Homo sapiens: one gene and its partners. The protein of the gene in region 4 interacts with the protein of the main gene of each other region in a pairwise test. Each region holds a gene or a part of one and is shown on either strand. Other genes may lie near its edges.

Region 1 (9,219 bases), on a different chromosome or scaffold from region 4:
TGGCTAGCCCCGGGGACTGCACACCTGGCCCACTCGTGTGTGTCCGGTGGTGGATGACGAACACTGACTTCCAGTCGAAGCCGCGGCCACACTGCTCGCACGTGTAGGGCTTCCTGGGGGTGGCAGCCGGCTCCAGTCTCGTCTCTGCAGGTGTGGGCTGAGTGGGCACTGGCGGTGTCCCTGGGCGCACAGTGGGGGCAGGAGTGGCAGCCCCAGACAAGCCCTCCCAGGCTGCCGGCCCTGGGCCCTGGGGCGGCTGGGCCTCTGGGCAGCCAGGTGGACCCTCACTCTCATTTCCTGGGGGCAGGGGCAAACCAGGTGAGTCCCGGCACTCAGCAACCCCTCCCTCAGGCTTGTGGCCGTGGCACAAGCTCCCGTCCCCCCATGAGTGGGTGGCTCAGGTCCCACCGATACAGGAGGGGTGATTCAGGCTGGATGGTGTGGGGCACTCACCCGAGCGCAGGCTTCTGCAGACGCCTGTCCCCGTGAGCAGCATCCCCAGCTCTGACTGGGCCTGTGCCTCTGGCTGGTGGGGCGGTAACCCTGCCCGGGTGGGGGGCACAGTTAGGCATGGGGTTTGCATGAAGGAGGGGTGGGGTCGGTTCTGGTAGGTGACAGGGTGTTCCTCTGGAAGGTGGGAGAGCTGGGTAGGGCTGGTAGCACAGAGGCCCTGCCCAGCTAGGCCTGCTGCAGGGTGGGTGCAGGCCCCAGGGAGAGGGGCGGGGTGGGGCTGGCTGGTCCTCACCCAGGGAGACCACTGTGCCGTACTTCTCCAGCATCGCATCCCAGTACAGTTCCTTCTGTGACCGGTCCAGCAGCCCCCACTCCTCCTGCGGATGTGGCCCATCACTGTAGGCGTCTTTCCACCCCTTCCCTGCCCTGTCTGGTTCACATTCTTACCTATTACCCGGAAGAGTCAGCAGGTTACCTACGCCTCATCTGCCCCTCCTGCTGAGAATGATCTCAAGGTGTGTGTTTGTTAAGTGCAGAGGTTCTCCTTCAGATCACCTGACCAGTGCTGCTGCCAGCACTCATCCCCCTCTACTACACCATCCTGCTCAGAGGGCAGGTTTGGCAGCATCACAGGGACCTGAGTGACTTTATCGAGGAATGAACTCCCTGATTGGGGGTCAGCCCTCCTTGCTGCCTGAGTCCCATCATCTGGGGCTTTGCTGGGTTGGGAAAAATAATCCTGAGGGACAAGCTGTGGCAAGTCCAGGGGCAGGAAGGCGGCAGCTGTGAGGAGCCACAGCTAGAGATGGTGCTGGCTGGAGGTGAGGACACTGGGAAGTGCAGCCTACCCACCCTGCCTCACTTTCTGACTGTGCCATGGGGCTGTGGAGGGAGCCTGGAAGGACTTCTTAGCCTCGAAACACATCTCAACCAGCAATGTTGCTGCTGAAGCTCCCCAGTGGAGTTGTTAGAGGAGCCGGGAGAGGAAAAGACCTTGCTACCCACACTTGGGAACCAAGCGATCCAGGTAGAAGAGGCCTCAAGCTGAGCTTCCAGGCCTAACAGGTGGCCTCTGAAGAAACCCCTAGGAGAGAAGGGACTTCGGGCATTTCCCAGGGAGAGTGTCTCCATCTGGTCTCAGGTGTGGGGGGAGTCCTGCCACAGCTGGTCATCTTCTCCCCTCCCCAGCTACACACAAAAGTTCAAATCCCCAGGTCTGGCTCAGGACCTCTGGGAGCAGCAAACCTCCCAGCTGACTTCTCTGGAGGTGAGGAAGCCAAGCCCACTAGTTCCAGCCACTCTAAACTGGGTTTCCATGGCTTGAGGCCCAAATCCTTTTTTTTTTTTTTGTTTTTGACACACAATTTTGCTCTTGTTGACCAGGCTGGAGCGCAGTGGCACAATCTCGGCTCACTGCATCCTCTGCCTCCTGGGTTCAAGCAATTGTCCTGCCTCACCCTCCCTAGTAGCTGGGATTACAGGCGCCTGCCACCACTTCTGGCTAATTTTTGTATCTTTAGTAGATACAGGGTTTCACCACATTGGTCAGGCTGGTCTCGAGCTCCTGACCTCAGGTGATCCGCTCACCTCAGCCTCCCAAAGTGCTAGGATTACAGGTGTAAGCCACCATGTCCAGCCCCAAATCCTTTTCAATAATAGATCACCAGTCTGTCCCTCTGCCCCAGGTCCTGTGGAGGGGTACAGCTTTTACAGACTCCACTTCTGGGAAGCAAAGAGCCACTAGTCAAGGAGCCTGGAAAACCACCAGGCAGAGGGCAGCCATGGGGACAGTCCCTTCTCACACCTGGGGCCTATACTTCCCACTTGGGGCTGCTCACCTGAATCCTGGGTGGGTGGAAGGATGTGGAGGCTGGTTCTTGGTGTCCATGGTTCCCCTCAGGGGACTGTGCTGCAAGTGGAGGGCTGGAGGGTGCTGAAAAGTGGGGCAGATGGAAGGGTGGTGTCAGGGGCTGCCCACATGAGCCATGGCAGATGAGGAGCTCCTCTGCTGTGTGACATGGCACGTAGCCAGCCCTTGGCTCCTGCCTCCCAGGTCCCCATCCCAGACAGGGACATCCACATTCACTTCAGGAGTCCCAGCCTTGACACACCTCTCCTGGGACTCCCACCCTAGCCAGGAATGTCCACACTTCCTCCAGGAGTCCCTCATCTCTGGTGGGACCCCAACCTCACCCACTTCCTGTCCATCGACATTGGGCTCCTCCTTCACACTGCAGCTGAGCTGGACAGACCCCTCTATTCTGGTGTCCTGGGGACCTTCCCCAGGGGACTCCACTGTCCCTGAGGGGTGGGGGCTCCCAAGTGGTTCCTCTGTCTTCTGGGCTGCAGGGAGCACCTCCTGCTTCAGGACATGGGCTGTGATCTGAGGAGAAGAGGTAGGTCACAATGGCTCTAGCCAGGGTCTATCCCTCCAAGAAGCTGATGCCAGCCACACTCACCCAGCCCAACAGTTGCCCAGGGTCATGCTGCAGTCCTTCGACTAGGGCAGCGGCCTCCTCAGGACTGCCTGGCCGCTGACCGCGCACCCAGGCCTGGATCTCGGGAGGCAGTGTGCCCAGGAACTGCTCCAGCACCAGCATCTCCAGCATCTGCTCCTTGGAGTGTGCCTCAGGCTGCAGCCACTGGCAACACAGCTCACGCAGCCGGGCCAGGGCTTCTCGGGGACCTGCCACCTCCTGGTAGCAGAACCCTCGGAAGCGGAGGCGGGCAGTCTCAGGCTCCTCAAGGGTGGTCTCTGGGTCCATGACGGGCAGGCATGGGGGACCCAGAGGGGATGGCATTCTTGCTCAAGGGGGTGGTCTTGGAATCGTCAAGATGGGCCTACAGAAAAGGAAGGGTCGGAATGTCAGCCAAGAGAATCTGGCCAGGGGAAGGCAGACACCAGGCTCAGCCCAGGGGGCTGAGACCAGGACCAAGTGTACTCTGAGGCCAGAAGAGATAAGGCCAAGAAAGCTTCATGGAAGGAGGAGGGTCACAGGACCCAAACAATGATGGCAAATGAGAGCAGGAGGAAGCCTCAGGGACAAATGCTTGGACGCAAGGTGTCCAGGGAGCTTCCTGGAAATTGCAAACAGTTGGGTCCAGCAGGGGACTGCTGGGAGATGACGCTAAAGAGGTGGAGAAAGACAGTCATCACAGAGTTCCAGCGCCAGGCTGAGGAGCCACAGTGTCTAGCCGAGGTGCGAGGAGAGTGGACCAGGGTGGGCGGGTAGAAGGTGGGGCCAGGCTGTAATGTACGGGGACGAGTCGCCCTCCACAATCTCGGGGAGGTTGACTGGGTGGGACCTCCTTTAGGAATGGCTCTGGGGAGGGGGCACGTGGACATCGTGCTCGCTGACCACAGCGAGCCGTGGGCGACTCACACTGCCGGGGCCCGTGCATGTGAAAACGAAAAGCAAAGGCCAAGAAAAACGGGGCCAAAGCTCCACGTTGCGCGGAGTCGAGGGATGGCCACAGCATCCCGGCCCTGAAGGTCTGCAGTGAAAGACGCCCACCTGGACGGGCCTGAGAGACCAGGCCTGACACCCGGCCTATCCGAGGGATGCTCGAACTTCGGGATCTGTCCCCAAAAGGGGAAGGCAAGAGGGAGGCGTTCCAAGAGGACTTGCCAGGCCCGGCCCCCCGGAACGGCGTTGAGGGTAGGAAAGGCCTGAGCGAAGGCTGAGGTGACGCGCGCGGCCTGTCGGGAAGTGGGCGGGCCCTCCAGGGCGCCGACAGCAGGAGCCGTTCAGGCCCCAGAGGGCGACCCCAAGCCCTCCCACGGGGTGGAAAGGCTGCGCCCACTCTGGCAGCCTGCGCTCACCTCAACCCGGAGCGGTTGCTTGGAGGCCGCTTCCCGGATGTGGCGCCGCACAACGCGGGGCGCCTCAGCCGGGTGTTGCCCCGGCGACGCCGCGCTGACCAATCTCTCGCCTGCACCGAAGGCACCGCCCATGCCCTTTGAACTACATTTCCCATGAGCATCAGCAAGACAGGCGCGACCGTGACCCGCTGACCCGCATTTGCAGCAGCCTCTGACGCCTGAGAGGCGCTCTGTTCCTCTAGGAGGTACGGCAGAGTCCCAGGGTTATATGGTCTCCCTCCGCTCTGAGAGCAGCTCTTCCCGGGTTATAAACTTGCGCGTCTGTACAGTGGGCCGGTTTCTATTGGCAGGTGAGGGGAGGGGGTTTTGCCCAATCAGAGGTGGCGCTTGCTTGGCCCCGCCGCCCCCACGCCATTCCCCGGGCCAGCCCCTAGATAACGCTAGGGCATATCCGCCCGCCTCCAGCTGTTCCCGTGGCAACGTTCAGGAGCGTTGCCTCGACTTCCGAAGAGGCTGGAAGTGGCGGCCCAGTGGTTTCCTAGGTCGAGTAGTTCGCTGGGACTCGCTTCCAAGTGGACCCGGGAGAGGCGGTGGTGTAGAAGACCACCCTGAGCCTGGGCTTTCTCCCGCCAGGAGGGTGCGAGGGCCATCTTTGACCTCTGTTAAGCGCCCTAAGGAGGTACCGACGGTTGTGACCGCAGTCTCTGACGTCTTCAGATGTCAGTCCTACAAAGTCGGGGGTGGAGGTTTCCCTCCAGGCTGATCGGACATGCTCAACCGTTTATTTACCTTTGAATTTGGGGAGCAGAACTAGCCAGGGTGACACTAGTTTCTCCCAATAAGCAGTGTTACAGTTTTCTAAATCTGTGGGGTCAGTTTTGCTTCCACACTTAAAAGTGGCCGAGCCATTACTTAGTCAGTCCTAAATTACACCGCCTGTTTTGGTTTCTTTGGATACCTGGGAATCCCTGCTGCCTGCTCTGGATGAAGAGCAGTGGTCTTGATCACCGATTGGAAGCACCGAGCATGTGCGTGGATGAGACTTGTCAACTCGGAGCTTTCCAACGGCCTCCTCAGGTTGTTTTTGGGGATGAGGTGCTTAGGCCTTTTCTCTGGGACTATGCAGAGTCCCAGAAGGAAAAAAAAACAAAAACTTTCACCCTCCACCATGTGGGGAGAGCACTGGGGCGTTAAGGGCTTCTTCAGTAGTTGTTCCCCAGGCAGCTTTGATATAGGTCTCCCGTCTCTGGGCTGCTGGTTCTCAGCCTTCTGCGGTTCTGGAGTCAGCCTGGTGGGAACTCTCTCCTCTTCGCCAAGTCGCCACGTAGTATTTTGCCTTCCCTAACTTAGTGACAGCTCTCACCCACTTCTAGCTTAGGAATGCCATTGCTCCTGACTCCTCTGTCACCATCCTCATACTTGTGGGTTATGTGTTTTAAATACTCCCCTCTGTGGTTTCAGTGGATTTCTGAGCCCAGTGAGATGCATGTGTTCAGTCTGACCTTTTGACATAGAAGCCCAGGGATACTTTTACAGTCACTACCTATTCAAAATTAAGAGCAGAGGGGGAGGTTGGAGGGAGGTCAGCCGAGGGGCCAAGACCTGCATGGAGGTGGGAGCCTAGGTTGGGGGCCACTGATCAGTCATGGGTTTGGGGAGGGGAAGATTGGAGGAGGGTGGACAAACTGAGGGACAACAGGGGCACAAGCAGACGTGGAAAGGAACTTGATGGAGGGAGGCGGCTGGTGGGAAGACAAGGTAGGGTACTGAGCCCAGCCTAAGGGGTCAGGCGGGCTCAGGGCAGAAACTTCGCTCAAGAAGCGTCTGTCAGAGGCATAGAAATGATTTCACGTGACTCTCTGGGTATCTACTTGTTTGACAGATGCTTTTGCTCCTGACTCCCATGGGCTCCCCAGAAAAGTGCTCTTTCAGGCAGGGAAGGGTTATTGTCTGCATTTCACAGCTCTGCAGACTTACTGGGGGACAATGGTTCAGGGACCTACTGGGATTCTGGTGGCCCAAGTCTTGCAGGCTCCAGGGGAGCTAGGTTCTGTGTGTCTCCACTCCCTGCAGGAACCTGTGAGGTTTCACAGGTGGAAGAGTCTGGCCCCAATATCAAGTGTGTGGGGCCTGGATCTGGGCTCTTTGTGTATAGGGCAGGATAGCTGCAGGATTTTGGAAGCCATGGGATGGAGTGCCCACTGGTTGGAGTCAACCTTGCAGGGTCATCACACATGGCCACACCCTCTATCTCAGCAGCAGAAGGAACACAGCCCTGCCTTGGTTTCTCCACCTACCATCCTCCCATTGCCAGGATCCACCAGGACTCATCTAGCAGGGCTGCTGCTCCAGACAGCCCCACTCTATCCCAGTTCATCCAGCTCCTGGCTACCCCAACCCACCTCTGACCCTGAAAAGGATACAGGTATCCCACTCCCTCCCTGGGCTGCAGACAGGCTGTATCTCTACTCTGTGGCCTCTTGAGGGTACCCAGGTTGAAGCCAAGTCCAGGAACTTCTGTGATGATGACAAACGCTGATGGCATGTCAGGGTATGTTCAATACCATCTGCATTGTATGAGGGTGAAATAGGTGTCAGGTTGCTACCGTTCACACAAATGTTTAAAAAGAAACCTTTATCAGAGAAGCTCTTGAACTGCTATTAAGACTGAACCATGCTCTGGAGTAGGGACAAGAGGCTGTGCTCTGGAGGTCCAAACTGCTGTACAGGAAACTGCAACACCTACTCTGAGTTGCAGATGGTAGTCTTTTTTTTTTTTTTTCCATTAAGGAGAACATGAATTTCCTTGGAGGTGAGGCTCCAGGTAGGGACAGGGCCTGGTCTGCTGAAGGCCACAGGAAGCAAATGGCCCCCAGTCCACCTTTCTGTCCCTGCCATGAAGGGCCATTACACTGGGGTGGGGAGGTCCTCAGGAGGGTGTCACACATAGCCTTAGGCAATAGCAAGTCTTTCCTATTCAGCTCTGTCCAGCCTCCAATTGAGGAGGGATAATGGGGGTGAGACAGGGTTGGGGGTGAAGTGGCCACCAAACCCGGCAAAAGTGAGCAGCTCCATCTTGTCTGAAGTTAACATCATCCCCTCAGGTATAAAGCCTCCTCCTCACATCGACTTTGGTAAACCAGTCAGTGACAGGCCTTGGCCAAGCTGAGACTTGGGCAAAAACCTGAACGAGTGCCACCGGAAAGCCATCATCCTAGCTCTGTCCTTCCAATGCTGAGAGTCACATGTTCCCCCATGGGCATCCCTCTCCTGAGTCGGCTATGTGTGTGAAGCCAGGCCAGGCCGTGTGCCTCAGTTTCCTCATCTTCCAAGTCGGGATACCAGCCACAGAGCCATCTCACAGGGCTTCAGGAGAAACTTCCCAGTACTCAGGACAGGAGCTGGCAGTGAGCATGTGTTGGCTCTCATTAGGACCCCACCTGTCAGCGTCTACAAACATGATGTTCAGTGGACCCAAACCTTTTCTCTTTCCCAGAGGTGGCGGCTGACAGAGCCCAGACCCTGATCCCCAGTCCCTTGTGGTCTCTTGTCTGCTAGGCTGGCCCCTAGGAAGTCTTGGATGAACAGAGGCAGTGGGTTGAGGGGAGAATACCCTCAGCGGGCATCTCTCCAGCGGCCAGTTTGTGTACAGCTGTCATAAGTTTCTCTGGGCCACCCCCAACCCATGCCTGCATCCCTCTCACCTTAGCATCCACTGTCATATCACATGAAGCCGCACCACAGTGCAGTGCTGTGACTGTCGGCCTCCTACTGGCTCTGAATAGTCTCGGCCCCACTAGAGTTCAGCCACCACGTCCTCCCCCTGATGTTGCTGCAGTGCTACCTCTTTGGGGATGGAGGTGTGATCTGTGGGTGAACTGGCAAATCCTGTCCCCACGTGCAAATGAAATCACAGCCAAAGGGCCTCCCTTGTCCCTGACTAGCAAGCACGGGACTTTTTCTCTGCTGTGGATCTGCAGAGGACATATGCCCTTTAGCTGTGGAAGGGATTCACAGAAGGCCAGGGCTGCAACCTGTGACCTCAGACCTCCGCTGGCTGCGAGACGGCGGCTGGGCCCGAGGCGGGAGTGGGCTCGGTTTCCTTCGCTGGCGCACCTTCTGATGATGCCCCGGCAACAGACCTGGCCTGGGGGTGCAGGCTGGCCCTGGATCGCCGGACGGTCTTCTCGCCGGTATGGATCCTCTGGTGGTGGAAGAGGGCCGGGCGCTCACGGAAGGCGCGGCCACACTGCGTACACACGAAGGGCTTCTCGCCCGTGTGAATGCGCCGGTGGCTGAGCAGCACGGCGCCCTTGGCGAAGGCCTTGCCACAGTCCACGCAGCGGAAGGGCCGCTCGCCCGTGTGCAGGAGCTGGTGCTGGGTGAGGTTGGAGCTGTGGCTAAAGGCGCGGCCGCACTGTGGGCAGGCGAAGGGCTTCTCGCCTGTGTGCACGCGCTGGTGCTTAAAGAGCGAGGAGCCCTGGCTGAAGGCAGCACCGCAGAGCGCGCACACGAAGGGCTTCTCGCCTGTGTGCGTACGCTCGTGCTGGATCAGGTGCGAGTTGCGGCAGAAGCGGCGGCCACACTGTGCGCAAGCATAAGGACGCCCACCCGCGTGGATCTTGCGGTGCTGGCTGAGGTTGGAGCCGTGGCTGAAGGCCTTGCCGCACTCGGAGCAGCGGAAGGACTTCTCGGCCGTGTGGATGCGCTGGTGCCGCACCAGCGAGGAGCTATGCCGGAAGGCCTTGCCGCACACGGGGCACGCGTAGGGCGTCTCGCCGCTGTGGATGCGCTGGTGCTGCGTCAAGTGCGACGTCTGGCTGAAGGCCTTGCCGCACTGGGCGCACTCGTAGGGCCGCTCCCCGGTGTGGGTGCGTAGGTGCTTGAGGAGGTCGGAGCTCTTCACGAACACTTTGCTGCACGCCCTGCATTCGAAGGACTTC
Region 2 (5,039 bases), on a different chromosome or scaffold from region 4:
AAACAGAGAATGTACAAGGTTATTTGTTGTAGCACTGTTTGTAGTCATGAAAGGAGAAAACAACCCAAGGATAAATTTTTTTTTTTTTTTTTGAGACAGAGTTTCACTCTTGTTGCCCAGGCTGGAGTGCAATAATGGCATGACCTCGGCTCACCACAACCTCCACCTCCCGGGTTCAAGCGATTCTCCTGCCTCAGCCTCCGGAGTAGCTGGGATTACAGGCATGCACCACCACACCCGGCTAATTTTGTATTTTTAGTAGAGACGGGGTTTCTTCATGTTGGTCAGGCTGGTCTTGAACTCCCAACCTCACGTGATCTGCCCGCCTCAGCCTCTCAAAGTGCTGGGATTACAGGCATGAGCCACTGCGCCCAGCAACCCAAGGACAAATTTTAAAATAAGTTACCTATAGCCAGGCACAGTGGCTCACATCTGTAATCCTAGCACTTTGGTAGGCTGAGGTGGGTGGATCACTTGAGCCCAGGAGTTCCAGACAAGCCTAGGCAACATGGTGAAACCCTGTCTCTACAAAAAATACAAAAATTAGCCAGGTGTGGTGGTGGGCACCTGTACTCACAGCTACTTGGGAGGCTGAGAGGGGAGGCTCACTTGAGCCCAGGAGGTTGAGGCTTTGGTGAGCTGTGATCATGCCACTGCACTCCAGCCTGGGTGACAGAGTGAGACCCTGTCTCAAATAAAAAATAAACTACCTATATCTATACAATAAAGAATAAAGGAATACTATGTAGATATGGAAAGATCTCTAATTCAGAAAATTATTTGGCTCCCTTTGGCTACTGTATGTATGAGATCTGACTATTTCAAAACTCTGGTGATATCACTACAAGAATGAGCTCCCTTTTAATGAAGTGCTTAATGGTAAGGAGAGTGGAAGTGAACAGGTAGAAACACTGAGTAATTATTTTCAGTTTTATTTAATAAACATCAATTTCCTTGTAGAAAACATAGAATTTCTACCAACTAAACAATATTGTAATAAGGATAAATGTATCAAATCACAGATAATGTTGTTAAACGAAGATGCTGTCTTGCAGATCCATTCATGAACAGGCCTAAACTGGCAGTGCCTATTGTTCATTTATTATGGGTGGATTTCCCATTTTACAAACAAACCTTTTATTTATGGGAAGAGGTTCAGCGTTTCGCAATGTCTTTAGTATGTATTTCCCGATACCGGAGGGGCAGAATTCCCCCTCTGTCCATCAAGTGACATCTGCTTGCAGCTGTAGGGAATTTTGCAGGGTACTCTTTTCCAGAGATAAATAATATAAAGATATAACACATAAGAGGTAATTCCCTGGTAACCATATATGTCCCCCAATCTTGTCTTGTCAAACTATAATTTGCTTATGGTTCCTCAAAAAAAAAATTGTTTCTTGTCCCTTTACTACTTCCCCTCTCCTTCTTTTCAGTTGCTCTTATCAGGAATCCTACACAAGCATCTACCTAAACACTACTATTTCAAGGGCCAGGCCACCTCCTATCTCTTTACTAAAGGACAAAGTCTTCCCTTACTATTCTACTCTACAGTAATATATGCTCTGGCCTTCTTTAGCCTTTATCATGCATTTGGCACTAATGTTTGTGTTGCTTAATACTGCTAATTAGCTTTTCACAGGTTTTGACATCTTCCAGTCAGATTGTAAGCTTTTTTTTTTTTTTTTTTTTGAGATGGAGTTTTGCTCATCGCCCAGGCTGGAGTACAATGGCGCGATCTCGGCTCACTGCAACCTCAGCCTCCCAGGTTCAAGCGAATCTCCTGCCTCAGCCTCCTGAGTAGCCGGGATTACAGGCACCCGCCACCACGCCTGGCTAATTTTTGTATTTTTAGTAGAGGCGAGGTTTCACCATGTTGGCTAGGCTGGTCTCGAACTCCTGACCTTAGGTGATCCACCCGCCTCAGCCTCCCAAAGTGCTGGGATTACAGGCGTGAGCCACCGCACCCGGCATGATTGTAAGCTCCTTAAAGGCAGATTCCTTTATTCTGTTTTTCCCATACTCCTCATGCACCTACATAGTAGATGCTTTAAATGTCCTGGTTTTGAAAAGTAACATGGTCAATCCCCTATAACCCAACATATTTAGTATTCTTTACAGCTTCTTCCAGAACCAGTCTGGTAATAAACATGGATATTCTGCTAGCCCAATGCATGTTTTGAGTGTTTGGTATCAGAACTCATCAGCTGACTCTGTGTCCCAGCCACAGGACTGCAGTTGATCGTCCTGTGGAAATTCAACCTCAATGTCATAAACAAAATTTGGATCATCCTTCTTCTTCTGATTTTTCTCAAAAAGTTCATCCATGATGCTCTTTCTTTTGGCAAGCTCCTTGTCATCTAGTTTGTTCAGGTCTTCCTCAGGATCAATGGTTGTTTCCCGTTGAATTTGTTCCATTGTTTCTGCCAGACTCTGCCCCGACAAGTAACCTCGTAAAAAACTGAATAGCTTCTCTAGCTGCCTCAGGGATACTTGTTCTAGGTAACTCTTGTGTCGCGGATTATTCTTTAATTGTTCAGCAGCTCTGGTGCAATCTGGGAGAGAGAAGAAAACTATATACCACATACGTACCACGTACATCATATACGCCATAAACTACTGCAACAGCCAAAACAGAACAAAAACTCTGAACCCTGAAAATATTATCTCCATTATAGTCAAGTAGCTAAATGGCTTGATTGGAATGAATTACTTTGTAGAACCATTCCTTTATATTGAGCTTTCAGTGTGGTGGGAGAAGGACAGATACAGTTTTGACTTCTTTAACTTAAAAATCACTTTGTAGAGATATTAAACACTTTCAACTGGAGAATATGTCTGAGAAGAAAAGTGATATTATAGCTTTTAGATAGCAGTAGTGGTATTAATAAAATATTAAGACTACAAATAAAAAACATTTGGAATGAGAGAAGGGAATTAATATTATTGAATAATGCTATATCATTTAACCTAGGCAGCAATCCCAAAAGGATTATTAATTATCAGATTGGAAAAAAACACTACAATTCCCTTTTATAGATTAGGAAACTGAAGCTCACTGAGAGTAAGTAATTCATCCAGTGTCACACATCCAGTCCCTGACAGAGTCATGATGTGAACCTGTATTTAGAGAATATTTAAGACAGGAGGCAAGATAAGACATGAGGTACCTGAAAACTTTGAAAAGTTTCGAACTGGCATAATGCGCTGGCGAATTTTCCCCTTGATTTCACTCTCATAGATTAAGATAATAGCTGGAGGCTGAAACCTAATCCCACATTTCTTGGCAGTGCACATCATTCCCATGTACATGTCCGGGTAAGTCAGAGGAAATCTGATGAATATGTGTAAGTTGCATAATGACTTCCTGCTAAAGGGAAAAAACAACTAGGTGTTGGATAAATGTCATTCATTCCCCTCGCCCCTTTGCCCCAGAAGATCTGGTTCTAGTCCGGCTCTGGCCACACACGCTCAGCCTGTGAAACTCATTTTTTTTAAAATTAAAATACGGACTGCTTCATGAATTTGTGTGTCATCCTTGCGCAGGGGCCATGCTGATCCTCTCTGTATCATTCCAATTGTGGGGTATGTGCGCGGGAACGACCACAAAGCTCAGTTATTTTGAGAACTGCCCTGAAAGTTCAGCTTGGCCCTGGGTTAGTTTCAACCTGTTGGATCCCTAAGATCTGGTTTTTTCAAGGATATAGACTTGTTCATATGTGAATCTGGGGATGCAATCCAGTTTGAACCTCTTAGTGTACTGCACTCTTACTGAAGATCGAATATGAACCCCTAAGTCAGCCCAATAGCTGACCTATAGGGTCTTTACTATTTATCAATTAAGAAAGGGCATATCGAGCATCCTCGGTATCAAGGTACTATGATAAGGTAAGTTTTTTAACCTTAATCATTTTGTCCTGAGAGGTTCACCAATCCAGAACTGTCTCCTTTGTACTTTCCCAATTATTTTACTAGAGTTTTTTGTCATTATTTATTTAATCATCTATCTTCCCTTCTAGTCAATATGCTCCATGAGGGTGGGGGGCATATTCATTTTCCACCACAATATCTCAGCATAATACCTGGAACGTAGTGGGCATTCCATACATTGTTTAATGCTATGAATTAACATGATGGTCCCTGTACATTTTTGAAAGCATTTACAGTCTAGAAGCCTGATCAAAAAGCAGACCTGCTGCAGAATCAGCTTCTTCATATACACGTCAGTAACGTCTGCAGCTACATCATATACATCACATATCTCAGCTTCTTCATATACAATAGTCAGTAATGTCTGCAGGGCTTTTATTTTGGCCTGTGTGTCTCACTATATGATAATTTTCTAGCTACAAGAAACAGCTATTTGTAGATGAATACTTACTATTCTCTCTTCCTTTCCCCACCCTCAGTGCCCAAAGAATACACTTAACCCTAAGCACTGCTTTTGATGTGACTGTGACATTCCCAGAAAGATTTGTAAATGTCAAGAAACATTGAGGTAAAGTGGCATAGGGTGATGATATCTTCGTGAACTCAGTTCTGCTGGAGAATCACTATTAGGAACATACTTTTTATTAAATACTTAGCAGTGATTATACACGTCATTGTAGAATACTGGGGGCAAAGGAGAGGGGAAACCTATAGAAAATAATCACCCTTGATTGTGTCCAGTCTTTTTTCTAGGCATATAGTTTATAGTATGTTTCATACATACCTTATCATACAAGCTATTTCCTGACGTTCAAATTTAACAACATATATTATTATTTTGTCATCAAATGTTTTACTACAATGTAACATTTTATATGACTGCTAAATGTTTTATTTTATGGATGTACTATAATCATATTATTCACCACTTATTGTTGGGCATGAGAATTTTTACTCTTAGAAAATTAATCACATATAAGCCCAGGCACAGTGGCTCACCCCAGCCAGCACTTTGGGAGGTCAAGGTGGGCAGATCATTTGAGGTCAGGAGTTCGAGACCAGCCTGGCCAACATGGTGAAAACCACGTCTGTACTAAAAATACAAAAATTAG
Region 3 (8,565 bases), on a different chromosome or scaffold from region 4:
GCATAAGGGCCAGGCCTCTCACTGCAGAACCATCCCCCTGTCCCTGTCTGCTCCTTTTCTCTGTCCACCCTGCCCTGTAGCCTGCCCAGTTTCCCCAGCCCTGGAGCTTCCCCCTCCACCCACCTCCTTCCTGCAGCTCCGGAATTCTTCCTAAATCTCAGAGTAGGGCATAGCCCTTACCTGCTGAGAACAAGCTGACAGCTCCTCAAAGCTCCCAGGACCAAGCTCCACACCTCACTTGGAGCCCTGACTCTTCCCTGTGGACCTCAATACCCTAAGGCCCCATCTCCTCCCTGGTGAACTCCTATACACCCCCCAAAGCCTGGCCCCCAAGCCCCTGCCTCTTCCCTGGTAAACTATACATCCCCATCACTTTGGCCCCCAAGTCTCTGCCTCCTCTGAGCCGCAGGTTCCCCAGGCATCCCCATTGCTCCTCTGCTCCCCAGCTCTGCACCCCAACTGGTCTGCCTCACCCCAGGCCACAGGGGAGGTCATGGGCCCAATTCCTTATCCACGGTGTCCCTGCAGACTCCAGAAACATCTGCTGAATGAAGAGGGGAGTGTGGAAGAACTGGCGGAGGAGGGAGGGCCTGAGACCCGCCCCCGGTCTCTCTCACTGCCCCAGACCCTGCTCAGCCTCCACTCCCACCCCAGCGCCAGGCTGCCAGCCTTGGAATGCCATGTGGGCACCCACCTACCCCAGGAGCCCCCACAAAGCCGGTCTTTGTGTGAGTTCAGACTCCGGGAGAAGTTCCAAACCCTCGGCCGCCCTCTGAGGTCAGGGCAGGCACGGGAATTGCTGGATGGGCCGCCCCTGCCCTCCGACCTCGGTCACCAGACCCTGGCTCTGCACAGGCCTAGGCCAGAAGAGGGGTGCTGTTGACTCAGTGCCACGTGGCAGACCCTGAGTCAGCGATGTGTGCCCACTTTGTCATCGCCACCATGTACTAGGCAGGTTGCCTGTTTTGCAGAAGAGACCACAAAGGCTCAGAGAGGCTGAGCCACTTCCCCAAGACCACACAGCAATACAGTAACCACTGGCTCTCAACGCCCTTGAACCCCAACTCCCTGTGCCTTCCCCACCTAACGCCCTCAACTGGCCGTGAGTCTTAGAGGGCAACCCTGATATTTAGGGCCTGCTCCCAGCTCTGGCCTCTGCAGCAAGCAACTTAACAATGTGCCTCAGTTTCCCCATCTGAAATATGGGGAAGATCGGAACGAACTTTGTCCTGGGGCAGAAGCTTGTGACCAAACCGCAATGCCCCCTAAGCTGTGAGCTTCCTCTGGACGAGAGGCTGCAACCACTGCCTGGAATTCCGCCCTTCCGTGCCCACCTCAGCTCTGTGAACTTGCAGACCTAGTTCTATCTCAGTGAGATTCCCTGTGCAAAAAAAAAAAAGCTGGCCGGGCGCGGTGGCTCACACCTGTAATCCCAGCACTTTCGGAAGCCAAGGCGGGAGGATCACTTGAGGTCAGGAGTTCGAGTCCAGCCTGGGCAACATGGTGAAACCCCGTCTCTACTAAAAATACAAAAATTAGCTGGGCATGGTGGTGGGCGCCTGTAGTCCCAGCTACTTTGGGGGCTGAGACAGGAGAATCGCTCGAACCCAGGAGGCGTAGGTTGCAGTCAGCTGAGATCACACCACTGGACTCCAGCCTGGGCAACAAGAGCAAAACTCAATCTCAAAAAAAAAAAAAAAAAAAAAAGGATGTTTGCAGATTCTAAGAGGAAACTCCCGAACCCCTGGGTCCAGCCTCCCCAGTTCATAGATGAATAAACCGAGGGGACTCGAAGAGGAAAAGGCCTTTCTCTGCATCTGGGGATGAGGCCCCTGGACCCCATCGGCCCTGGAGCCCACATCTTTCTGCCCATCTCGGGAGCTCCGTGACCCCAGGCAGGGCTGTGCCCCTCGCTGGGCCTTGACTTTCCCATCTGTGAGTCCTGAGGCTGAAGAAGTTGATTCCGGACGGGAGTCAGGCCTGTTTACAGATTCAGGAAGGGCCTGGGCTCCCAAGAGCAACCCCCGCCCCCTGCAAGGCCAACAGGAAGAGGGATGGGGGGCAAGCAGCTGTGGCCTCCCTTCCTGGCCCCCACACTCCTAAGACGGCCGGGGCAGCCCCGGGACCTGCTGACACCTGGGGCGGCCCAGCTGCCTGGCCTTCCCCTTCCTCCTCCCTGACCCATTGTTCTGCCAGAAACGCTCCCATCCAGGCAGCCAGACAGGAGGATGACTGCTCTCCCAGGGGAACAGGCCGAGGACCAAAATAAACCTGGGTCTTCCTTCCTGCAGGAGGCGGTGTAGCGGCCGCATCAGCCCTTACAGGGCAGGGGCCTTCCTAGGGACTGCCTGGGGCCTAGGGGCATCGCCCTCCAAATGCCAGGGCACCCTGCCATCGTCACAAACACACACAGCCTGCTACAGCTTCTGGGATTCAGGTGTTAACACCCATTCAGTGGCTCAACGAGCATTTATGGAGCACCAGCTGTCCTGGGGCAGAAGCTTGTAACCAAACCCCAGTGTCCTGAGCCAGCGACCTGTGCCTATTCGTCATTCCCACCTGGTACTGGCCAGGTTGCCTGCTTTGCAGAAGAGACCACAGAGGCACTGGGGATACAGCAGGCATCAAAACAGATCCCATCCCTGCCTTGCTAAGGCCCTGGCTTTCTAGACCCCAAGCTGCCTCCTCATTACAAAATCATCTGGGCCAGGCAAGGTGGCTCACACCTGTAATCCCAACACTTTAAGAGGCCAAGGCAGGAGGATTGCTTGAACTGGGAAGTTCAAGACCAGCCTGGGCAACATAGCGAGATCCCATCTCTACAAAAAAAAATTTTTTTTAATTAGCCAGGCATGGTGGCACGGGTCTGTGGTCCCAGGTACTCGGGAGGCTGAGAGGGGGAGAATCGCTTGAGCCCACGAGGTCAAGGCTGCAGTGAGCTATGATCACACCACTGCACTCCAGCCTGAGCAACAGAGCAAAACCCTGTCTCAAAAGGAAAAAAAAAAAAAAAAAAAAAAAAGCCAGGTGCACTGACTCACACCTGTAATCCCAGCACTTTGGGAAGCTGAGGTGGGCAGATCACCTGAGGTGAAGAGTTGAGATCAGCCTGGCCAACATGGTGAAACCTTATCTCTACTAAAAATACAAAAAAAATTAGCTGGGCATGGTGGCAGGCACCTGTAATCCCAGCTACTCTGGAGGCTGAGGCAGGAGGATCATTTGAACCCGGGAGGTGGAGGTTGCAGTGACAGTGAGCCGAGGTCTCCAGCCTGGGTGATAGAGCGAGACTCCGTCACAAAAAACAAAAAACAAAACAAAAAAACCCAGTCCGACGGCTCCTCAGACATCTAAACACACAGTTACCATAGGACCCAGCAATTCCACTTTGGGGGATCTACCCAAGAGAAACACAAGCATACACCACGCAAACACTTGTTTTGCACGTCACAGTTTACAGCGGCGTGACCCAGGGTAGCCTGCAAGTGGAAGCAACTCAAATGTCCGTATGTCCATTAATGGGTGAATGAATAAACAAAATGAGATCGGTCCAAACAATGGAATGTTCTCTAGCCATAAAAGGAACGAGGCTCACACACAAGCTCCAGCGTGGATGCACCTTGAGGACATCATTCCCAGTGACAGAAGCCAGACACACAAGGCCACAAAGTGTGTGATCCCACTTCTATGAAATGTTCAGGAAGGGCCGGGCACCGGCTCACGCCTGCAATCCCAGCACTTTGGGAGGCCGAGGCGGGCGGATCACAAGGTCAGGAGATCGAGACCATCCTGGCTAACACGGTGAAACCCCGTCTCTACTAAAAATACAAAAAATTAGCGGGGCGCGGTGGCGGGCACCTGTAATCCTGGCTACTCGGGAGGCTGAGGCAGGAGAATGGCGTGAACCCGGGAGGCGGAGCTTGCAGTGAGCCAAGATCACGTCACTGTACTCCAGCCTGGGTGACAGAGCGAGACTCCATCTCAAAAAAAAAAAAATGTTCAGGAGAGGCCTGTCCACAAGGGCAGAAAGCGGACTCGCGGGTGCTGGAAACTGGAAGAGGGGAAAATGGAAAGCGATTGCTAAATTGGGAACCAGGTTTTTTTGGGGTGAGTGGTAATGGAATGTTCTGGAATTAGAGATTCCAGAAATTTATGATGGTCACATAACTTTCTGGTTATAAATTGTACACTTTAAAACAATGATTGGCCAGGTGCGGTGGCTCATAACTGTAATCCCAGCAGTTTGGGAGGCAGAGGGAGGAGGATCAATTGAGGCCAGGAGTTCAAGACTAGCCTGGCCAACATAGTGAGACCCGGACTCAACTGAAAAAAAAAAAAAAAGTCGGCCGGGCGTGGTGGCGAGCACCTGTAATTCCAGCTACTCGGGAGACTGAGGCAGGAGAACCGCTTGAACCTGGGAGGCGGAGGTTGCAGGGAGTCGAGATTGTTCCACTGCACTCCAGCCTGGGTGCAAAAACTGTTCCCCTGCTGGAAGGAGGAGGTGCCGGTAACCAATAAATAGAAACAAACAAGTTAATTTCAGGAAGAGAGATATGGGCCACGGGGGTGGGGGATGAAGTTCAGGGTAACCAGGAGGGCCTCTCTAGGGAGAGGCTGGGCCAGTTGAACTGGGCCTGCAATGACAGGGTCTGCGGGAAGATGCTCCAGGCAAAGGGCACAGCCTGTGCAAAGGCCCTGGGGCAGGGCTGTGTCACGCTTGTTACAGGAACAGCCAGGAGGCCTCAGCCCTGTCCACAGCCTCTGTCCAGGTCCGTCCACAGCTCTGAGGTCTCCCTGCTGTGACCCTTGGCAGGCCCCATGCATGGGGGCAGCTTTCCCATCTGCAAAATGGGTGACCAGGCACCAACTCCCTGGCTCCCTTGACTCTTCCCCTGCTCCCTATATTCCTTTTTTTTTTTTTTTTTGAGACGGATCCTCCTGCCTCAGCCTCCCAAAGTGCTGGGACTACAGGTGTGAGCTACCACCCCTGGCTTAAATGTACTTTATTTAACTATAAGTTTATGTATGTATGTATGTTTGTATGTATTTTGAGATGGAGTCTTGCTCTGTCTCCCAGGCTGGAGTGCAGTGGCCAAATCTCAGCTCACTGCAACCTCTGCCTCCCGGATTCAAGCGATTCTCCTGCCTCAGCCTCAGCCTCCCAAGTAGCTAGGACTACAGGTGCATGCCACCACACCCAGCTGGTGTATTTGTATTTGTACAAAAATACAAATTTGTGTATTTTTAGTAGAGACGGGGTTTGGCCATGTCGGCCAGGCTGGTCTCTAACTCCCGGCCTCAAGTGATCTACTCGCCTCGGCCTCCCAAACTGCTGGGATTACAGGTGGGAGCCACCACGCCCAGCCTTAACTATAAGTTTATATTCTCCCACGTTAAATAATGGCTGCGTTTAACTACCAGATGGCAAAATTCCTGAAAACACAGGAGGTGGCTCTGGTGAGCTGGCTGCAATTATGTCACAAGTCCCTGCCGTCCCCACCCCTGTCCCATGAATTCTTCATGCACCTCACAGAGTGTCAATAATTGATGGATCTGCTCTGCAGGTGCACGCCAGCCGCTCCATCTGTCTTGTCTCAGCCCCGGCTGCACTCAGTCCGGGGGCCCAGGGGGGGCCTCAGGCCTCTTCCCGCCGAGGCCAGTGATCCCAGGCCTCATCCCACCGACTCCCAGGGTCCCACTGCACCAAGCCCTTTAAGACCCATGACTCACAGGCTGGGCGTGGTGGCTCATGCCTGTAATCCCAGCACTTTGGGAGGTCGAGGCGGGCAGATCACCTTAGGTCGGGAGTCCAAGACCAGCCTGGCCAACATGGTGAAACCCCATCTCTACTAAAAATACAAAAATTAGCCGTGTGTGGCACACGCCTGTAATCCCAGCTACTCGGGAGGCTGCGTCACGAGACTCGCATGAACCTGGGGGGCAGAGGTTGCAGTGAGCTCCACTTCATTCCAGCCTGAGAAACAGAGTGAGACTCTATCTCAAAAAAAAAAAAAAAAAAAAAAAAATCCATGACTCAGGACTTGCAAGCCGGTGTCCATTTTATTTTTATTTATTCATTTTTTTTTTAAGACAAGGTCTTACTCTGTTGCCCAGGCTGGAGTGCAGTGGTACCATTATAGCTCACTATAGCCTCGACCTCCTGGGCTCAAGTGATCCTCCCACCTCAGCCTCCTGAGTAGCTGGGACTACAGGTATGTGCCACCATGCCTGGTTAATTTTTTTTTTTTTTTTTTGGTAGACATGGCGTCTTGCTATGTTGCCCAGGCTAGTCTCGAACTCCTGGGCTCAAGTGATCCTCCCGCCTTGACCTCCCAAAGTGCTGGGATTGCAGGCGTGAGCTGCCACACTTGGCCAGTGTCCATTTTATTTTATTTTTATTTTATTTTTTTGAGACGGAGTTTCACTCTTGTTGCCCAGGCTGGAGTGCAATGGCATGATCTCAGCTCACTGCAACCTCTGCCTCCTGGGTTCAAGTGATTCTCCTGCCTCAGCCTCCCAAGTAGCTGGGATTACAGGCATGCGCCACCACGCCCGGTTAATTTTGTATTTTTAGTAGAGACGGGGTTTTCTCCATGTTGGTCAGGCTGGTCTCGAATTCCTGACCTCAGGTGATCCACCCGCCTCGGCCACCCAAAGTGCTGGGATTACAGGCATAAGCCACCGTGAACGGCCAATTTTATTATTTATTTATTTTTTGAGATGGAGTCTCGCTCTGTTGCGCGATCTCAGCCCACTGCAACCTCCACCTCTCCAGTTCAAGCAATTCTCCTGCCTCAGCCTCCCAAATAGCTGGGATTACAGGCACCTGCCACCATGCCTGGCTAAGTTTTGTATTTTTAGTAGAGATGGGGTTTTGCCATGTTGGCCAGGCTGGTCTCCTCCTGGGCTCAAGCGATCCTCCTGCTTCGGCCTCCCAGAATGCTAGGATTACAGGCATGAGCCGCCATACTTCGCCAGTGTCCATTTTAGTTATGGCAAAAGAGAGAGGGGAATCTGTTGGCCCAAGTTGGGGGTGACATCAGTTGTTCTCAAACTGGGTTCCCCAGCACCCTCAGGACCACCCCATGGATGGGCAGGGGCCAGCTGCCTGCTGGGTTGTGGCGGGGAGCCTGGACACTTTCCACTGTGGCCAGATTTCCACTGGAGAAAGGGTTCGAGGGCCAAACATGAATTATCAGCTACCCACAGCCCATGACTCTGCAGAGGAGGGGACAGGCTTGCCTCAGCCCAAGCAATAAATTATTAGAGTGCAGAGAAGCCTAGGATCACCTGGCAGGAGGTGCATCCAGCCCCTAAATGTGTCCCAATGCAACCCACTTTTTTTTTTTTTTTGAGACAGAGTCTCACTCTGTTGCCCAGGCTGGAGTGCAGCGGCGTGATCTCGGCTCACTGCAACCTCCGCCTCCTGGGTTCAGGTGATTCTCCTGCCTCAGCTTCCTGAGTAGCTGGTATTACAGACACGTGCCACCATGCCTGGGTAATTTTTGTATTTTTAGTAGAGATGGGGTTTCACCATGTTGGTCAGGCTGGTCTCCAACTCCTGACCTCAGGTGATCCACTTGCCTCAGCCTCCCAAAGTGCTGGGATTACATGAGCCACCCTGCCTGGCCTAACGCAACCCACTTCTTATCTCCCCCACAGCCTCCATCCTGGTCCCCTCGTCCCTCAGCACCATCTATCCCCATGCCCCCCGTCTGTCCTCCCTGTAGCAGCCAATGGGTGCCTGTGAGTACCTGAGTCAGGTTCCATCCTTCCCCTGCCCACCACCCTCCATGGCTCCCACCTCCCTTGGGGTCAAAGCCAAGTATTCCTGGCAGCCCATAAGATCCTGCGCACCCTGCCCTGTCCCCTCCCTGCCCTCCCCTCCTCCCTCTCTCCTCCTCCTCACTGCTCCAGCCCCACGGGCCTCCTTGCTGCTCCTCTACCATGCCAGGCGCCATCTTGCCCCAGGGCCTTTACACAACCTGTGCCCTCTGCCTGAGCTGCTCTTCTCCCAGGTCTCCACATGGCTGTTTCCTTCTTGTCATCCAGGTCTGGGTTTACATGGCCCCTCCTCAGGAAGCCCTCCCAGATCCCCCATCTATTTTATTTATTTTATGTGTATATTTTTAATTTTTTTTTTTTTTTTGAGATGGAGTCTCACACTCTGTCAACCCAGGCTGGAGAGCAGTGGTGCAATCTCGGCTCACTGCAACCTCTGCCTCTTGGGTTTAAGTGTTTCTCCTGCCTCAGCCTCCTGAGTAGCTGGATTACAGGCACCCACCACCACGCCCGCCTCATTTTTGTATTTTTAGTAGAGACAGGGTTTTGCCCTCTTGGCCAGGCTGGTCTCGAATTCCTGACCTCAGGTGATCCGGCCACCTCAGCCTCCCAAAGTGCTGGGATTACAGGCGTGAGCCACGGCGCCCAGCCAATTCTCTTCTTTTTCTTTGAGACAGGGTTTCACTCCTGTCGCCCAGGCTGAAGTGCAGTGGCATGAGCTCGGCTCACTGCAGCCTCAACCTCCCTGGGCTCAGGTGATCCTCCCACCTCAGCCTCCAGAGT
Region 4 (8,975 bases):
GGAGGCCATAGCTTTTTATTTGAGTACCTTTCAGATTCATATTGTAGAAAGTAATGAGCCTAGTAATGAATAGCTGTCACTATTTCATTGTGAGCCTTCATTTAAAAAAAAAAACCAAAAAAAAAAACCAGTTTTGAACATTAGTAGGAGTTGAAATGGAGTGTTATGTCTCCTTTTTCTTTAATAGTGCTACCAATAGGACTTTCTGATGAGTGGAAATGTTCTATATTTGTGCTGTCAGACAGTAGCCACTAGCCACATGTGCTATTATTGAGCACTTGAACTATGTGAGTGTGACTATGAAACTGAACTTTTAAGTTTATTTATTTTTGAGACAGGGCCCCACTCTGGCACACAGGCTGGAGTGCAGGGGTGTGATCTTAACTCACTGCAACCTCCACCTCTTGGGCTCAAGTGACCCTCCCACTTCAGTCTCCAGAATAGCTACAGTTGTGCCAACATACCTAGCTAATTTTTTTATTTTTATTTTTGTACAGATAGGGTCTGACTATGTTGCTCAGGCTGGCCTCAAACTCTTGGCCTCAAGTGATCCTCCTGTCTTGGCCTCCCAAAGTGCTGGGATTACAGGCATGAGCCACCATGCCTGGCTTAATTTAAGTTTAAATGTAAATAGTCACATGTTGCTAGTATCTCTAGTGGTTGCTGTATTGGACAGTGCAAACCTAGAATGTAACTGAGATGGTCTAGTTCTCTAAAAAGCTCCCAGGGTGAGGGAGGAATATTGTTCACAGTGGGTTTGACTTCTCTGGTGAGTTCCTTCTTTGTACCTTGGGTTGTTTTTTGCCTTTCAGAGGACTGTCTCCCTTGCATTTCCTTTCTGTGAACAATGGAGCTAACATGACTGACTTAAACACCTTTGGCAGTTTAGAGCACGGTGTTCCAGGGTTTAACCCTTGCCAAGTTTAGAGGGGTTCCCCTCCCAGACAGTGACCCAAATCAATGCTAAGGCTGTACAGTATCAGAACATAGAAAACTTTGAATTGCTCACTGAATTTACCGCAAATAAAACTATCTGAAGGCCAGGCGCGGTGGTTCATGCCTGTAATCTCAGCACTTTGGGAGGCTGAGGTGGGCGGATCACAAGGTCAGGAGATTGAGACCGTCCTGGCTAACATGGTGAAACCCCGTTTCTACTAAAAATACAAAAAATTAGCCAGGTGTGGTGGCAGGCGCCTGTAGTCCCAGCTGCTCGGGAGGCTGAGGCAGGAGAATGGCGTGAACCCAGGAGGCAGAGCTTGCAGTGAGTCAAGATCTTGCCACTGCACTCCAGCCTGGGCGACGGAGCGAGAAAAAAAAAAGAAGAAGAAGCTGAGGCAGGAGGATGGCTTGAATTCAGGAGTCCAAGTCCAGCCTGAGCAACATAGTGAGACCCAGTCTTTTAAATTAATAAAATAAAATGAAACCACAAACCTCAAACAAACAAAAAGACAAAACAGGATTTCAATCATTGTGAAGCTCTCGATCTAGTAGATGAGTAATGTATATAAACCAAAATATTACAATTTCAGAGAAGTGCTACAGGGCCTAATGTTTAACCACTTCTGGCATTCAACTGACTGTGTTAAAAACTCTGCCACCACTTTCCAGGGGTATAAATTGAGGTAAGTTATTTGGTATTTATTAAATTTCAGCTTCTTCATATGCAAGGGGGTTATGATAATAATACCTACCCCATGAGGACAATATGAGGATTAAACGAAATAGTGTATGTATACAGCCTTAGCCAATACCCATACATGTTGAGTGCTCAACCAGGTGTTAGCTATTAGATTTTAAAATTTTATTTAATTTTTATGGGGTTTTTTTTGTTGTTGTTGTTGCTGTTGAGACAGAGTCTTGCTCTGTTGCCCAGGCTGGAGAGCAGTGGCGCGATCTCGGCTCACTGCAAGCTCCACCTCTTGGGTTCAAGCAGTTCTCCTGCCTCAGCCTCCCGAGCAGCTGGGACTACAGGCACACACCACCACGCCCAGCTAATTTCTGTATTTTTAGTAGAGATGGGGTTTCACCATGTTGGCCAGGTTGGTCTTGAACTCCCGACCTTGTGATCCACCACCTCGGCCTCCCAAAGTGCTGGGATTACAGGCATGAGCCATCATGTCCTGCCTAGTTTTTTTTTTGTTTTGTTTTGTTTTGTTTTGTTTTTGAGATGGAGTCTCTCACTCTGTCACCTAGGCTGGAGTGCAATGGTGCAATCTCGGCTCACTGCAACCTCCGCCCCCCGGGTTCAAGTGATTCTCCTGTCTCAGTCTCCCGAGTAGCTGAGATTACAGGCACACGCCACCATGCCCGGCTAATTTTTTTTTTGTATTTCAGTAGAGATGGGGTTTCACTGTGTTGTCCAGGCTGGTCTTGAACTCTTCCGCTCGGGCAATCCACCCACCTTGGCCTCCCAAAGTGCTAGGATTACAGGTGTGAGCCACTACGCCCGGCCACTATTTTTTATAGTTTTTAAGGTAAAATTTACATTCACTGAAATGTTACCTGCATATTTTTTGATAAGTGAATATACCTATGTAACTCACATCCCTATCAAGATAGAGACCATTTTTACCACCCAGAAATTTCACTCATGTACCATCCCAGTCAATCCCCTGCCACAGGGAACCACTGTTATGATTTTTTTTCACCACAGATTAATTTTCTTTTCTAGAATTTCAAATAAATGGAACAGTATGACACTCTTTTGTGTCATTTATTTATCTTCACATAGATAATTCACATACTTTGTGTCATTTATCTTCACATAGATAATTCACATACTTTAAGATAAAAAAGGTACAATTTTAAACCTTTTGGGCATGCAGTAAAAATCTCCTTCCCACTGGTACCCACCAGTCACCCAGTCTTCCTCTCTCTTTCTCTCTCTTTTTTTTTTTTTTGAGACAAGATCTTTCTCTGTCGCCCAGGCTGGAGTGCAGTGGCACGATCATGGCTCACTTCGGCCTCACCCTTCCAGGCTCAAGCAATCCTCCTGCCTCAGGCTCCCAAGTAGCAGGACTACAGGTGCCTACCACCACACCTGTCTAAATTTTTTTTTGTATTTTTTTTTTGTAAAGATAGGGTTTTGCCATATTGCTCAGGCTAGTCTTAAACTCCTGATCTTAAATGATCCGCCGGCCTCAGCCTTCCAAAGTGTTTAGATTATAGGCGTGAGCCACCGTGCTTGGCTCAGTCTTCCTCTCTTGAAGCAATCAATGTTATTAGTTTTATGTGGGCCATCCCATGTCTTATCATTATTAATTCAGGTGCTTACAAAAGGCTCTTTGAGAACTGTTTTAAAGGTTACCCAAAGAATCTTGTGACAACCCAGCTAAAATGATATAAAATCAGTTTTAACATAACTGAAGTTTTTAGATTCTGATTCCAAATGTCAGATGGTGACATTTTACCTTTCTCTGACTTTATGCCAAATTTAGTTTAAGTTTTAGCATCTATAATTTTCATTTACTGAACAAATATATATTTAACAAATATGAAAATACAACCATGAAACAAACAAAATCAAATCCTGGACTTAAGGAGCTAATAGTAAAAAATTCACCAATATAACTACCCAATTACAGTTTCATGCGATGTGAAAGGAGTAAGAGACCACCATAGGGAGGTCAGAAGATGCTTCTCAGAGGTGGATACTAGAGCCGTTGTCAAAGGATGAGGACTGGGAGAACTTTCTGGGCACAGAGCAAAGCATGAGTAAAAGCTCTGTTGAGGCCAGGAAGCCGGTAAATAGGGAATAAAAGAGGCTAGCGTGGCTGGAGCACAGACAGCAGGGTGGAATTGGTCTGAGCAGTGAGAAGAGGTGGAGAGGTGGGCAAGGCACCTGGCCATTCAGGGCTTGGTTAGTTAGGAGGGTTTTTTCTAAGAGAATGGGAAAGTGTTTAAGTGGTTTAGGCTGGGAAGTGACAGGGTCACACTGTTATTTTGAAAAAGTCACTCTGCCTGTTGTGTTGAGATTAGAGAGGGGATAAAGGGAATATGGGTAAACCACAAGAAGACTAGGTCAGTAATCCCTCCACCCCCACTCCCCAGGTGAAGGTAGCCTAGACTAGGGTGGTGATGGAGGAAATAGGAGAGGACAGATTCAAGGACCATTTGTAAGGGAAAAACCAATAGAATTTGCTGACGGATGGAATATAAGAGGGGAGAGGTACATTATCAAGGATGTAGCTTAGTTTTCTTATACAAGGATTGAGTTGCAATAAAATTGTTAATTGAAATTTCTTTAAATAATGGCACAACCTAAAGTTATGCAAACATATGCCTCAGATAAAAGTTCAAGTTTTCAAAGTTTTTAGCTGGGTGGAGGGCATGGCTTTACTTCCTATTTCTTGGTATTTCCTAATCTTGTTGAAAAAAAAGTAAGGTTTTTTTTTTTTTTTTTTTCTGAAATGCTTAGTTCAGTGGAAACCCATCTGCGAATTCTGTCTTATAAATTTAAATTTAAAAATAGGGATACTAATTTCTAGACAAATAATTCCGGAGTTTCTTGTGCTGCTAATTATTATAATTTTTGTCCCTTTTTTTTTTTGAGACAGAGTATCGTTCTGTCGCCCAGGCTGGAGTGCAGTGGCGCGATCTTGGCTCACTGCAACCTCCACCTCCGTGGTTCAAGCAATTCCCCTGCCTCAGCCTCCAGAGTAGCTTGGCTGGGAGTACAGGCGCACGCCACGACGCCGGGCTATTTTTTTTTTTTGTATTTTTAGTAGAGACGGGGTTTCACCATGTTGGCCAGATTGGTCTCCAACTCCTGACCTCAGGCAATCCGCCCGCCTCGGCCTCCCAAAGTGTTGGGATTACAGGTGTGAGCCACCGCGCCCGGCTGTCACTTCTAAACATATAATGAAAGTAATCTGTATTGCCTTTTTACTTTTTCTTGCCTGCTTTTCCTGGACCAGAAATTAATAGGCTGTTTCCGTCCCAAACAAAGTACTTTCCTTCTAAGAATGTCTTCGTTGACGCTGGAGGGCTGCCCGGCTGAATCTTACGTATTCGTGCCCATGTTCTGCCCCCTGCAGTAGTCTGCATAAACCCAATGCGAAGACACGTGTAAGAGTACATTACAATTACAAGTGTCATTTACGCGTTGATTATTGTTTTTGCGAGTGCCCTAAGGCCACCTCTGGGGGAGCTCGGGGCTGCCTTCCGAAGCATGCGCGTCAGCACCGCGTGCCAGGGCCCTGAAAGTCAGGCTCCGCGTCGGTGCGGCAGCGCGAGGCCTGCAGTCCTAAGCTCGGGGTCGCTTCGGGCCCCCGAGGGGGTGTGTCTTCTACCGTTTTAACATGGAAGGGGCGGTTCCAGTGGCCGGGGAAGTCGGCGACTTGCAGGACTGAAGGCTGGTGCTTTGAAAGAGAGGCGGAGGGCGAGAGCGATTTCCCCGCCTCCTCTGCACTCCGTCCAATCCCTTCGCCTTCTCCTTTTCTCGGCCGGCCCGCCCGGCCCCTAACCTGCTCCAACCCATTCTGCGGTAGAGGCTGCCGGGTCTCTTTAAGGCCCTCCCGCGCCTGCGCCTTGGGCTCTCCTGACGCGGCCGGGCCGGACCCCGGAGGAACCAGCTGGCCAGCTGGCAAGGGGCTGGCTGCAGTTCCGACAGCGGCGGTGCCGGGAGGGGTAGGTGAGGGTCGCGAGGCGGCCCTGAGCTTCTGAGTGAGCGTGGTGCTTTTGGGAACTCGGGACGGGCGACCCGTGGAGCCAGGAGCGGGGCCGAGGCGCTGAGACGCGGCGGCGCGGCTGCCGGCTGGATGGGAAGTTAATGTTTACGGCGAAGTCTACTCAACGTTTCCAAGGTGAGGGGCGCTGCGCCAGGCCGGGCGGGCCGGGAGGCCGGGCGGGCGGTGAGTCCGTGTTCCGCTGGCGCACAGCTGGGCCGAGGCGCGGCGGGCGGGGGCCGCCGCAAGTTTTGCTGTGGGAGCGGGGCGGGCGCGCCTGGCCCCGCCAGGGCCTAAGTTCCCTGCACTCGCTTCCTCGCCTGTCGCCGCCGCCGCCGCCCGCAGCCCTCCTTCTCGTGGGCGCTGGGGAAGAAACTCGTCGGCGGGTCTAACTGTGGCGTCCCAGGGCGGTGGAGGGACGGAGCAGCTTCGGGGGCACGTCCTCGTAAATCCCGTGGAGGACACTGACCCTGCACCCCACCCTCGAGGCCAGAAGTCGGTTCCCTTTGGGGACCTGAGGGGCGAGAGCACTCGCCCCCCTGACTTGCAAAGTTGGCGTCTTTACTTGGCCTCCGGGATTCTGCGCATGGCGTGTCTCCAGGCTGCTGATGGGCAAGACAGATGTGCCAGGTCCAGAATGAACTTGAGAAGAGTTTGTAGCCATTCCTGAATCACCTTATGACTAGTGGGGCAAGCCTCAAATTAACCTCAGGATTTCCGGTAGGTTGGATTGTGGTGTTGGTGTTTCCACTCAAAAGAGTTGCTGTGATTTCCCTGTGTCTGTCTGTCTGTCTGTCTTTGGGGCTTCTTAGATCATCTCATTTGGCATCCTTTCACCCAAGAGTTAAACCAAGCCTTTTGGAATGGTTTCCTCGCTTTCCTCCTATCTATTGCTGGTAGAGCTGCTTTCGAAAAGAAGTATTTTCTTGAAGTGGTATCTTTTCTTTGGGTTACAGTGTTGAATAATAAACTCCTTTCTTTGCCGAAAGAATGAATTCCAGTGCTTACTGAAGTTAAAGAAAAGTGATCTGCTGGTAGTTTTTAATCTTTGTTCTGAGCTGATGTAAGTAACTTTTTTTGTTTTAAAATTTTGTTAGTAGAATTTCACCAGTGTACCAGAAGCTCTTTTTCTTTTTCTTTTCTTTTCTTTTTTTTTTTTTTTTTTGACAGGGAGTCTCGCTCTGTCGCCAGACTGGAGTGCAGTGGCGACGTTGGTTCACTGCAACCTCCACCTCCTGCGTTTAAGCAATTCTCCTGCCTCAGCCCCGCGAGTAGCTGGGACTACAGGCGCGCGCCACCACTCCCAGCTAATTTTTGTATTTTTAGTAGAGATGAGGTTTCACCATGTTGGCCACGATGGTCTTGATCTCTTGACCTCGTGTTCCACCCGCCTCAGCCTCCCAAAGTGTTGGGGTTACAGGCGTGAGCCACCGTGCCCGGCCTTCTTTTTCTTTTCTTTTCTTTTCTTTTTTTTTTTTTTTTTTTTTTTTAAGGCTGAGTCTCACTCTGTTGCCTAGGCTGGATATATTCTCCTGCCTCAGCCTCCCGAGTAGCTGGGATTACAGGCGTACATCACCACGCCCGGCTAATTTTTTTTTTTTTGTATTTTTAGTAGAAACGGGGTTTCACCGTGTTGGTCAGGCTGGTCTCGAACTCCTGACCTCAAATGATCTGCCCGCCTCGGCCTTCGAAAGTGCTGGGATTACAGGCGTGAGCCAGCGCACCTGGCCCAGGTGGTCTTTTTTCTGTTCTAAAATGATAACTACGATTTCCGAGAACTTTGTGTCAAATAAATCTTAGAACTAAGTTATTGAAGTATAGAGAAAAAGTTCACAATTCTAAATGTGCAGGTGGTCTGGGTGCGGTGGCTCACGCATGTGATCCTAGCATTTTGGGAGGCAGAGGCAGGTGGATCACTTGAGCCCAGGAGTTTGAGACCAGCCAGGGCAACGTGGCAAAACCCCATTTTCTACTAAAAATACAAAAATTAGCTGGGTGTGGTTGTGTGCGCTGGTAGTCCGAGCTACCCAGGAGGCTGAGGTGGGAGGATCACCAAAGCCGGGGAGGTCGAAGTTGCAGTGAGCCTTGATCATGCCACTGCACTCCAGCCTGAGCGGCAGAGTGAGACCGTCTTTCAAAAAAAACAAAAACAAAAAACATCGCAGGTAATGAATTTTTACTAAGTGAACCACCAAAGATCAAGAAATAGGACATTACTAGATTGGAGTATGTACGTAGGAGTGGCATTGTTGGTTTTATAGGTACGTGGGTGATAAAACTCTAGTATTAGAAATTGTTGAACATTTTCCCAAAGTGGTTCTACCAATTAGCAGGGAATGTTCCGGTTACCCCACATCCTTGCTGGTGCTTGTCAGTTGAAATTTTTTTTGCTAGTCTAGTAGAGGTACAGTAATATATCAGTGTGGTTTCATTTTGCATTTTCCTGGTACTGAGGTTGAGTATCTTTTGTTGACCATTTATATTTCCTCTTGTGAAGTGCCTGTTAAGTCTTTTTGCCCAGTTTTCGTTGATATGCTTATTTTTCTCTCATTTATAATGCTTTATTCTGGATATGAGTCCTTTCTAGGATATATATGTATTGCATTTTTATTTTTTTCAGTCTGTATTTTGCCTTTTCAGTCTTTTAATGGTGTTTTTTTTCATGCCTGGAGATTCTTAATTTGTGTGTGTGTGTGTTTTTTGTTTGTTTGTTTTGTAAGATGGAGTCTCACTCTGTTGCCAGGCTAGAGTGCAGTGGCGCGATCTCGGCTCACTGCACCCTCGCCTCCCGGGTTCAAGCAATTCTCCTGCCTCAGCCTACTGAGTAGCTGGGACTATAGGTGTGTGCCACCATGCCCGGCTAATTTTTGTATTTTTAGTAGAGACAGGGCTTCACCATGTTGGCCAGGGTGGTCTTGATTTCTTGACCTCATGATCCATCCACCTCGGCCTCCTAAAGTGCTGGGATTACAGGTGTGAGCCACCGTGCCTGGCCTTTTTTTTTTTTTTTTTTTTTTTTGAGACAGAATCTCACTCTGTTGCCCAGGTTGGAGTGCAGTGGCACGATCACGGCTCACTGCAATCTTGATCTCCCAAGACTCAGGTATTCCTCCTGCCTTAACCCCCAAGTAGCTGGAACTACAGATGAGCACCACCATGCCCAGCTAATTTTTGTATCTTTAGTGGAAATGGGGTTTTGCCATGTTGCATAGGCTGGTCTCGAACTCCTGGGCTCAAGTCATACACCTACACCAGCCTCAGCCTCCCAAAGTGTTGTGATTACAGGCATGAACCACTGCACCCAGCCTG

What was found.
Region 1: the proteins of EVI5 (region 4) and ZNF446 interact in binary tests that used the Homo sapiens proteins (3 or more experiments, as listed by UniProt).
Region 2: the proteins of EVI5 (region 4) and CEP19 interact in binary tests that used the Homo sapiens proteins (3 or more experiments, as listed by UniProt).
Region 3: the proteins of EVI5 (region 4) and TNFAIP8L1 interact in binary tests that used the Homo sapiens proteins (3 or more experiments, as listed by UniProt).

Annotation. Positions count from the first base shown.
Region 1 is NC_000019.10:58,471,254-58,480,472, reverse strand, and holds the start of ZNF446 (zinc finger protein 446), read right to left. Parts: upstream 4,122-9,219; 5' UTR 3,969-4,121; intron 3,295-3,968; 5' UTR 3,255-3,294; coding exon 2,913-3,254; intron 2,837-2,912; coding exon 2,647-2,836; intron 2,387-2,646; coding exon 2,292-2,386; intron 831-2,291; coding exon 746-830; intron 544-745; coding exon 454-543; intron 298-453; coding exon 1-297. Other genes in the region: ZNF324 (zinc finger protein 324A), read right to left, coding at 8,319-9,219. UniProt on the Homo sapiens protein: May be involved in transcriptional regulation.
Region 2 is NC_000003.12:196,705,361-196,710,399, forward strand, and holds the end of CEP19 (centrosomal protein of 19 kDa), read right to left. Parts: intron 3,368-5,039; 5' UTR 3,298-3,367; coding exon 3,168-3,297; intron 2,553-3,167; coding exon 2,191-2,552; 3' UTR 917-2,190; downstream 1-916. UniProt on the Homo sapiens protein: Required for ciliation. Recruits the RABL2B GTPase to the ciliary base to initiate ciliation.
Region 3 is NC_000019.10:4,642,067-4,650,631, reverse strand, and holds part of TNFAIP8L1 (tumor necrosis factor alpha-induced protein 8-like protein 1), read right to left. Parts: intron 1-8,565. UniProt on the Homo sapiens protein: Acts as a negative regulator of mTOR activity.
Region 4 is NC_000001.11:92,781,665-92,790,639, reverse strand, and holds the start of EVI5 (ecotropic viral integration site 5 protein homolog), read left to right. Parts: upstream 1-5,531; 5' UTR 5,532-5,804; exon of another isoform or gene 5,805-6,344; coding exon of another isoform or gene 6,345-6,386; intron 6,387-8,975. UniProt on the Homo sapiens protein: Functions as a regulator of cell cycle progression by stabilizing the FBXO5 protein and promoting cyclin-A accumulation during interphase. May play a role in cytokinesis.